Linked DNA regions of Homo sapiens: region 1 is linked to region 2. Evidence: fine-mapped expression QTL. Tissue or cell type: nucleus accumbens. Region 2 holds a variant in brackets; the other region holds the start of a gene. All regions are shown on one strand. Distances are from middle to middle.

Region 1 (5,381 bases), 120 kb after region 2:
TCTCTAACTTAAATTGCTCAATTATAATTAGCGGGTTTTTTGTTGATTTAAGTGAATTATCTATAAAATGACGATTTAAAAATCTAATATGTATACACACACTCACATACATGTGTAGTAAATATTTTACAAGTATGCTGCCTTTTATTTTTTCTCATTACAGTTTAATTTAATTTTGTTTTGCTTAATTATCCTTCAGACTGCTTGCTTCTGAGCTTCTTAGAAAGGTGTTGTCAACATAAAAATGTACCTGTGTAAATAGGTATTTATGTTTTCTTCTGGTGCTTTTATCATTTTGTATATTAAAAAAATTTAATCTATATTCCATCAGAAATTTACTTTGTGGCATAAAAATCTAGTTTTCTCCAAAAAGCAGGCATTTCACTTATGAAACTAATTCTTTCCCTACTAGTATAACCTGTGAGCATTATCAAGTTCTAAATTCTTAGATATTTGGGTGTTTCTGGATTTTCTACTCTGTTGTATTCATTTACCTGTCTTTTCAGCTGTTATCAAATAATTTGTGATTTATTTATTTATTTTTGAGACAGAGTCTCACTGTCTCCCAGGCTAGAGTGCAGTGATGGGATCTCAGCTCACTGCAACCTCCGCCTCCCAGTTTCAAGCGATTCTCCCTCCTCAGCCTCCCGAGTAGATGGGCTTACAGGCTCCCGACATCCTGCCTGGCTAATTTTTGTATTTTTGTAGATTTGAGGTTTCACTATATTGGCCAGGCTAGTCTTGAAATCCTGACCTCAGGTGATCCACCCGCCTTGGCCGCCCGAAGTGCTGGGACTACAGGCATGAGCCACGACGCCTGGCCCTTTTTTTTTTTTTTTTTCAAATTTTATTTATTTATTTATTTATTATTATTATTTTGAGACGGAGTCTTGCTCTGTCACCCAGGCTGGAGTGCAGTGGTGCGATCTCGGCTCACTCCAAGCTCTGCCTTCCAGGTTCACACCATTCTCCTGACTCAGCCTCCCAAGTATCTGGGACTACAGGCGCCCACCACCACGCCCGGCTAATTTTTTGTATTTTTAGTAGAGACCGTGTTAGCCAGGATGGTCTCGATCTCCTGACCTCATGATCCACCCACCTCGGCCTCCCAAAGTGCTGGGATTACAGGCATGATCCACCGCGCCTGGCCATGGCCCATTTTGTGCAAATTAATAGCACATTTTGAAATCTAGAAGGGCAAGACTTTTCTACTCCGTTACAAAATGTTTTAAATGTCACCACAATAGTAAAAGACAGCGTGTGTAATTTTAAAAATGTTAAAACGTTGATAACTTTATTTGGTTTATGTAAAACTGATAAAGAACTTGCATCTTCAGAAAAATGAGTCTTCTTAAATTCGAAAACATAAACCATCTTCCCACCTCAAAGTTACCTTCTAAGGTCCCTCAGCAAAGAATATATTTACATAGACATTCATTGATATTGAAATGGATACTGGACTTTATCCAAAAAATTTTTAGCCAAGAAGTTAATATATTATGGGAATTATTTCATTATGCACCATTTCATAATGTATCTAACATCTTTTAAAACCTGTACATTAAAAGTAAAACCCTGTATGTACTTAATTTTATAAGTTAAATCACTTTAAAATTCTCTACACAGTGCTCTGTGAGAGGAAGTGGGAGTGAAGGAGAAAGCAGCTAAAGTTTGGGGTTGATTTTAAGGTGGCCTGTGCCCTCCGCCCTGCAGGGCGCCCTCATCCAAGGCCTGGGGGACCTGCCCGGGAAGAAGGCCAAGACCTCGGGGCCCAGGACGGCCGCCCCGCTGCCCGCCACTCCTCCACCTGCTCCCCTCGTCCCCAGGACCCCCAGGCCCCACTCTGAAGGGGCGATCCTCCCACAGCCTCCTCCTCCTCCTGCAGCCCCGGCTCAGGCAGGGCCTGGTACCTCTTCTTCGCATCTCTTATGTTCAGGTCCATTGTCGTCTTCTTCATCATCCTCTCCAGCTTCCAGGCTTGGCCCCGGGAGGCAGCTTTGTGGATCTTCCTGAGATCCCCATGGTGAATCACGTAAGAGTCGTTGTTGGTGTAGACCAGCTGACTGAAGGGGCTCGGGCGCTCTGGGCCCGTCTGGCCCTTGACAGGGGCGGCAGAGAGCCTCTCCATGGCTGCAGCCACCTGCTAGAGAGAGCCCGTGCCTCCCGCTGCTCGCCCTTCCCCAGTCCCCGCCGCTCGCCCTCGCCCTTCTTCAGTCCCTGCATCCGCCCTGACAAGACTAGAAATCTCAGTCGGGCCAAGCTTTTGGACACTCCAACCTCTCCCGGGAGAAAATGGCTGCGCAAAACCGTTAGGCAGCTGAGCAGAACCGTTAGGCACCTGAGCAGAACCTTTAGGCAGCTGAGCAGAACCGTTAGGCAACAGCGCATGCGCAACTCAGCAGACCTGGGAGACACGCGAGGCAGGAAACCGCCCTGGCTGCGCTTCGCCCAGCACGGCGTGCAGGTGGCACCTGCTACTGAGGCGCTATCGGGCTGGCGGGGCTCCCTGGAGCGGAACGTGGGGGGCTCCCTGCCACATGGCCTGCTTGACAGAGCTGCCCCTGTCCCCTCCTCAACCTGAGATCCAGGAGCTGGGCCCTGGCGCTGGGCATCGTGCAGCCTCCAGGGTGGCGCTGAGCGTCGGTTCCCGGCCTCTTGCAGCCAGGGACCCATCCCTGACTTAGGCGCCTGGAGGCTTCTGGCCCAAGTATCCGCGCGGCTGGTGGCGCTGGCAGGGTCAGGGTTGCAGCCTCTCCTGCCACGTGCCATGTTCAGGTGGCAGCTGCAGCTGAGCCCATGGTAGAGGCTACAGGGTTGGGCCCAGACCGCTGAGCATCGCCGAGTACATCGCCCTTCCACCCGGGGCTCTGCTCTTCCTCGGCTCGCGCTGGCAGCGCAGGCTTGCCACCACTGGGCCCTGTACAGCTGCGGCGATGAGGCTTTGCGGCAGGTTCCCACGATCCTGCAACTGAGGTCCCACTGCCTGACTTAGGCGCAGTGGCGGTGTCCGACCCTGGGGTTCGCCTGCTGGTGGCGCGGACAGGTTCGGGGGTTGCCACCGCTGCTGCCACCTTCAAATGCCAGCTGCAGCTGAGCCCACGGTAGAGGCTGCAGGGCTGGGCCCGACGGCCTGAGGGTAGCCGTGTGGCACACGCCCTCCCACTCTAGGCCCTGCTCTTCCTTGGCTCGCGCCCTGAGCGCTGGTTTGCAGGCTCTGGGCACTGTGCAGTCGCCAGGATGCGGCTGAGCAGCAGGTTCAGCGCCGCCTGGGCCCAGAGGGGAAGAGGGGAGTTTGGGGTTGCTTGGCCGTATTTGCCTGTGCGCCAAGTGCAGGTAGCGGCTACAGTTCTGACAGGCACGGATGGCGGGTCCCGTTTAGAGGGCTTCAAGGTTCCTGAGAGCGCCCGCTGCCAGGCCTCAGGATCCCTTCCTCGTTGACCAGCATCTGGAGTATGGCAGTGGCGCTGGGTCATCTGCAGCCCTCCTGGATGGGGCTGAGCTGCAGTTCTCACCCTTGGACTGAGAGGGAAACTCGGCTGAGTGGAGCAGATGGAGAAACAGTTAAATTGAACTTATCTATAAAGACTTCCAGGCTGGGTGCAGGACCTCATGCCTGTACTTACAGCACTTTGGGAGACCGAGATAGGAGGATCACTTGATCCCAGGAGTTTGAGACCAGCTTAGACAACACAGGGAAACTTTATCTCTATAAAAATAAAACCAATCAGCCAGGCATGGTGGTGCATGCCTGTGGCCCCAGCTACTTGGGAGATTGATTGTGGCAGGATCACTTGGGCCTGGGAGTTCGTGGGTACAGTAAACTGATTGTGCCACAAACAAGGAATGAGAGGTCCTGTTGCTCCCCATCCTTGACAGCATTTGACCTTTTCAGTCTTCTGGATTTTGGTTATTGTTTGATTGTTTGTGCCGCTGCACTCCAAGCCTGGGCAACAGAGACTCTCTCTCAAAATAAATAAATGAAAGACTTCTAGTCACTATATCTTATCTATGTCGAATTGTTTACACATCTAGCTTGAAGAATTAAAACCCACAGAGCCCTCTGATTATGTGATAGGGACCATGTGATTAAAGTGGGTGACCATGTTCTTGCCTCCAGGGGGCCCAAGTCAAGGGATGGGTCCCCAGCTGCAGGAGGGTGGGAATGGATGCTCAGCACCACCCCGGAGGCTACACAATGCCCAGCCCCAGGGCCCAACTCCTGGATCCTGGATCATGAACAAAAACCCAAGAATTGAAGACTTGAGTGTTAGATATGCTCATTTCTGCTGGGATATCATTGCTTCTAGACCGTCTTAGTTTACAGAGCAAAGAAATAAATGTGTGTATACAAAGCTGTGTATACACATAACTATAAATATTTCTAAATGTAATGTGTGTAAGTGTTAGTTCATACTGATGTCTACGACTCAATTCTTTTATCACATGATCATTCCGGCCTTCTCCCCTTGCTTACATGTAACCTCCCACTTTAATAATGAGAAACCAGGCTCCTGTCATTTGTCATCCGTTTGCTTAACTGTCTAGTTCCAATATACATTCATTCTCTATCAATATCAGAATCGCTATCCCATTTCCTGTAGGAGACAGCTATACCAACCAGATCACATGAGTTGTTTGCAGTTTCTCTTCCTTTCAGTCTTCATGCATTTTCTTTGTTTCTTTTTCTTTTTCTTTTTTTTTTTTTTTTTTTTTTTTAAGATGGAGTTCTGCTCTTCTTGCCTTCTTGCCCAGGCTGAGGCTGGAGTGCAGTGGCGTGATCTCGGCTCACTGCAACCTCTACTTCCCAGGTTCAAGCGATTCTCCTGCCTCAGCCTCCTGAGTAGCTGGGATTACAGGCACCCGCCATCATGCCCAGCTAATTTTTGTCTTTTTAGTAGAGATAGGGTTTCACCATTTTGGCCAGGCTGGTCTCAAACTCCCAGCCTCAGGTGATCCGCCCACCTTGGCCTCCCAAAGTGCTGGGATTACAGATGTGAGCCACCACAGAAGGCCCATCCATTTTCTAAGATGCTTATGTCAGCACGTTTTTCCCACTCCCTAGAGTGAAGTGGCTTTATACATTTGTAGTACTTTAGATTTTCTATCACATTCTGCATTCCATCTCAGGATCCCCAGAACACCTACTTTGTTGTTGTTGTTGTTTTAAAATTTGCATATATTAAGTGACATTCTTTGTTTTTTAACAAATGCAGGCCAGGTGCAGTGGCTCACGCCTGTAATCCCAGCACTTTGGGAGGCCAAGGCGGGCAGATCACGAGGTCAGAAGATGGGGACCATCCTGGCTACACGGTGAAACCCCGTCTCTACTACAAATACAAAAACAAAATTAGCCAGGCGTGGTGGCAGGCACCTGTAGTCCC
Region 2 (5,326 bases):
TTGGGGGGAAAAGCATACTTAATTAGCTAAGACTTCTTATTCTAGGCTTGACCCTGTGTTCGACATCTTTTTAATTTGTAGTTGCATAGGCTGCTCTCTGACACTGGTTAGTGATCTGGAAGCTATATTAACGTTAGGAGAGGTGGTGTATGAGCACTAGAGGTATCCTTGCAAGGGAAGACTTGTCTTATGTCAATACGTCTTTTTTTTGCACACAAGAAAGTCAATGTTTGAGTCTTCTAAAATCTTCCTATTTCCAAGTTGCAGAGTACAATTGATTCCTAAACAACGATCTAATTTTTGACTCAGAGACGTGGCAAGGTAGTGAATCACCATTATAATTTAACAATCTTCAAGATAAAATTATTTCTCTGATATTTAGATTTTGCCCAATTATTAAGATATTTGGGTGTTTCGTTAAGAATGGAAGACTCTAGTCTCTTGAGCAGAGACTATAAAGGCCTCAGATGATCATTTATAATTTTATGCTCTTTTCTTTAACACCTTCAACACAGTTGGAAGCAGCCAATATTCCCCAGTGTTGTTGTGTTTTTTAAACCAAATGCATGGTTCAGTGGTAGAAAACTGGGCTGATCCAAGCTGTTTTCAGTAAACACTTCATTTCAGGTGACCTATTTCATATTAAATAATCTCTAGATCCTGTCTTCAAAACTAACTAGATCAGATAACCTACCCTAGATTTTCCCCTTTAGGGTCTGTTAGCTGCAGTCACTTTTGTGAAAATGATTGCGATGAAAAGATAGAGTTGTAGATGGGGAAAATGTTTTGACTAATTTAAGCATAGTGGTATTTAATATGAGAATTTAAGTTACACACATTTGAAAATTATAATGGAGTCTCTTGGCTGAGCTTTAAAAAAAATAGCGTTTAGGCTAAAAAGGGAACTGCTACCTCTCCTAAAATCAGAAAGATGTTACAGTAATTCTCCATTCTCTAGAATTATCAGGAAGCACCTTTGTGATGATTTACTTTTGCTCTTGGGAGTGTGAGCCTGTGTAGTCGTGGAACCGTCAATTAGAGTGATGGCTTTCTGATCCCAAAGTCATTCGTTCTGAAAACAATATTTTTCATAAATTTGAATGTGAGAAGTTTTGATCTTGCCATTCCCAAGTAACTCTCTTAATAAGAGGCATCAGCATGCTTCAGTGACAGCTGTCACCTTCCAGTGCTGAGAGTCATCTTTGAGTTCTCCATTTCACTCCCTACACTCCAATTTAGCTGCAGTTCTCTTGGCCAGTCCTATGAAATACATCCATGGCCTAACGACTTCTCACCACTAATACCACTCATACTTACAGCATTCTCACCTAAGTCACTACCTTTTTTCTCTGGATTACAATAGCCTCCCAATTTATTTGCTCACATAACCTATTTATTCTACACAGTGCACCAGATACACCCCTTTGAAATGCAAACGGAATCATATTATTCTCTGGTGAAATTATCTCATATATTCCTATCGCATTTAAAATTAATTCAGAATAATCCCATGATTATCAAAACCCTATGTGCTCTTCCACAACATGATTTACTTCCAAGATATCTCTTCTTCAACTTTTTTTTCACTGTACTGAATTGGTGACTAAAAGTCATATTTTTGTTTTTGCTTAAAAAGTCTTGACTTGTAAATTTTTCAGTTTCTCCTTTATCCACAGGTAACTCTTTCCTCATAAGGCGAATTGCTTGCTTCCTTGAGTTCTGCTCTCAAAGATACCCTTCATGTTCTACCTAATATTAATAACTTTAATCATTCATTATTCCATTACTATGCTCTATAGTGTATACAATTTCTGTTCTTTGTCCTGTTATTAACTAAATTATTTATTTGTTCCAGTAACGTATTCCATAAATATTGTACACATAAAAATTATGTTATTTTTATTGCTGTATGCTCAGCTGCCCAATAACAGTTTGAGGATTAACATATTTGTTAAATGCACAAATACATTCTTTCACAAATATTTAATAATTTTATATTAAACTCCCTATATACTTACAGTATGAATTAGATAATTCAGAATAAACATTCCATTGGAAAAAACTAAACAATTTGTTATAAAACATCCTTAAAAGCATCAGAAGGTTAATACAGACATGAAGAATTACAGGACCAAATTAAGAACGGTATGGAAGCCTGTTTGTGAGGCTTATGTTTGGGTTATCTCTTTACTTAGAGTGACTATAAATCTCAAAAGAGAACTAAAGGGAGAAATAACCATATCTACTAACATGGTAAGGGTATTTAAACATCTCTTAGTAATTGAGAAAATTGAAAGAAAAGAAAAAAGAAAGGGAGAAAGAGAAACAGAGCAAAAGGGATAATGAAGGAGAGAAAGAAGAAGAGAAAGGAAGAGGAAGAAAAGTAAAAAGGAGGAGGAGGGGGAGGGAGGAAGAAAGAAAGGTGAAAGGAAAGAAAGGTAAAGTTTTTAACAGCATAATTTATCCTTGTAGAATATGAATGTTGGTCTATTTGATGATGTCCCACAGATTCCTTAGTCTCTGCTCATTTTTTATCTGTTTCTCAGAATCAATATTTTCCATTTTCTTATCTTCAAGCTCATGACTTTTTCTGTGTGTGCAAATATACTCTTAAATCCCTCTGGTGATTTTTAAATTTTTATCATTGTAGTTTTCCACTCCAGAATTTCTGTTATCTCTTTGTTGATATTCCTACTTTTTAATATTTTTTTCTGATTCCTTCATTTCTTTGTTTATGTTTTCCTTTTGACATTTGACATTTGAGTATAATTAAGAGAGTTGTTTTAAAGTCTTTGTCTAGTAAGTTTGATGTCTGGGTTTCCTTAGAGATATTTTCTGTCAATTTATTTTGTCCCTTTGAATGACCCATACTTTCCCGTTCTTTGTATGCCTTGTAACTTTTTTTGAAAACTGGACATTATAATAATTATAATTACT[A/G]TGTGGTTACTCTGTAAATCAGACCCCCCCCTACAAACATACTAACGTTCTGTGGTTTTAAATTTTATTTACTTATTATATTGTTAAGGATTTTTTTTTAGTGAAATTTTCCAAAGTGATTAACAAAACTGTTTGCTTTATAAGGTGTGGTCACCCAAGTCTTTTTGTTTCCTTAACAAATGTTAAGATAATGTTTTGACTGATTTTCTTGTATGTCAGGAACTAAGCAAACAGGCAAATACAACAAAAACAAAAAGAAAAACAAGTAATCATTATCCAGCAAAATAGGTCTCTAGGCCATGCAGACTGGCTTTGTGCTGGGTTCTTTAAAGCCGGGACAAAGTGTGTGTTCACTCTTGCACTGAGTGAAGTTCAAGTTCACTCTTGCACAGAGCCTGCACTGAGGGGAGGGATCAGCGAAGGTAAAAGTGTAGGGTCTTCTTATGACATTTGTCAGCATGTGGCTTAACGTATGCATACATGTGACTTTCTAGACTCTCCCATGTACGTGAATGATTTTGAATGTCTTAGTTTTCCATATACTCTACTCCAACTTTTCTTCCTGTGCTGAAGGTGATCTACTATATGTGTAAACTCTAATTTTTGCCCTAAGCATCTGTGGCTTGTTAGGTCTCCTTGTAGAGTTTCTTAATAATGTCCATTCCTTATCTGTTCTGTATCCTAGCAACACACACAAAAAAGCCTTTCATTAGTCCTTTAGGTATCCCCCAGACCAGTCAGAACAGACACATAATAATTTGAGGGTAAGATCTTCTCTTGTTCCTTTGGACGATGGACCAGGTTTCCTCACTGGGAACGTGGGCTTCTGACACTTCAAAACAGCCAATTTGCTGGGGCAAAGGCAAGTTAAAAACGTCATAAAGTTTTCAAGTTGTCTTGTTCTTGAGTCTGCTTTCACTTGGTTGTTGTAATCTTTTGACCATTTTCCAGAGTTTTGGCAAAGTTTATTCGGACAGTTTCTCTTAGTTGTGTGATGTTTCTGTGGGGAAGTGAAAGATTGCAGTTGTCTCCACTGCCATTTTGCTGATGCTCCTCTTTTGTCAATTTTTGCTTCATGTTCTTATGCTTTGTTATTAGTTCATGTATTAGTTTTCTAGGGCTGCCATAACCAAGTAACACAAACTGGGTGCCTTGAACAACACAAATTTATAGTCTTATAGTCCTGGAAGCTAAAAGTCTGAGACTGAGGTGTCAGCAGGGATGGTCCCTTCAAGGGCTATGAGAGAAAGTCTGTTCTGTGCCTTGTTTCTAGCTTCTGGTGGTTTAGTGGCAGTCTTTGGCATTTCTTGGCTAATCTCTGCCCTCATAATCACATGGTACTCTCCCTGTATGTATGTCTCCCTCTACTCAATTTTCTTCTTTTTATAAGGACATCAGTCATATTGAATTCAGGCTCATCTGATTTTATCTTAACTTAATCACCTGCAAAGAACCTATTTCCTAATGAGGTCATATTCAGTGGTTAGGATTTCAGCGTCTATATAGATGAAACAATTTAGCTCATATTTGTGCATACATGATTGTAATAGCTATGTCTTCCAAAAGTGCTGACCCCCTTATTACTACAATATAAATTTTTAAAATCCTATTCACATTTTTAATAGTCTATATCGTGTGTTATGAGTATAATGAGTTCAGTGTTCTTATGATTGCTCTTTGCATGATATTTTTTGTCATCTTTTTACTTTCAATCCATTAGTATCCTTGCGTCTCAGCGTATATTGGGATCACTTGTTTTAATCCAGTCTGAGAATCTCTGCCTCTTGAATGGATTTTAATCTGCTCACATTTAATATTATAATTGGTATAATTCTATTTATGTCTGCCATTTTACCGTTTGTTTTGTGTATTTCTCAAATATTTTTCTTTATTGCTTTATTTTGCAATGAATGAATATTTTCTAAAATATGGAACTTTAGATTACTAATGAATTATTTTAGTATATATTTTTGGGAATTTTTGTTGTTGTTGTAAGTTTACCATATAGGTATATGGAAAATTAATTATTCAAATCATCTTCCAATTTATACTAGTAAACTTTTAGTAATACATAGAAACATCATTCTTATACAAATCTCTTATATTTCCTCCATTTTAAAGTATTATCACTTTACACATTATATCTATTAAAGTTACAAAGCCAACAATACATTTTAGTAATTACTACTTTACCATCTAGAGTGATTACCTTATCACAATACATTTTTCTTCCAACTACCTCCTCTTTGATGTTACTGGAAAATATGTTATAGATATATTACATTTCTACATGTCAAATACTCAGCAATACATTATGAGCATATTATTATTATTATTATTATCATTAAGACGGAGTCTCCCTCTGTCACCCAGGCTGGAGTGCAGTGGC

Evidence for each region. PIP is the estimated chance that this variant, and not a neighbour inherited with it, causes the effect.
Region 1: ANKRD30BL starts here. The variant in region 2 is fine-mapped to the expression of ANKRD30BL in nucleus accumbens (GTEx, PIP 0.96).

The regions. Positions count from the first base shown.
Region 1 is chr2:132,159,578-132,164,958 of GRCh38, forward strand. ANKRD30BL (ankyrin repeat domain 30B like) reads right to left here and starts at 2,375. Exons shown (of 6, transcript NM_001358416.1): 1 at 1,911-2,375. The coding sequence starts at 2,128. RefSeq lists an enhancer at 2,668-3,168.
Region 2 is chr2:132,040,031-132,045,356 of GRCh38, forward strand. It overlaps LOC124908048 (extensin-like), which reads right to left and starts at 1,692. Exons shown (of 4, transcript XM_047446884.1): 1 at 1,554-1,692. The coding sequence starts at 1,692. The variant A/G (reference allele first, on the strand shown) is at 2,938.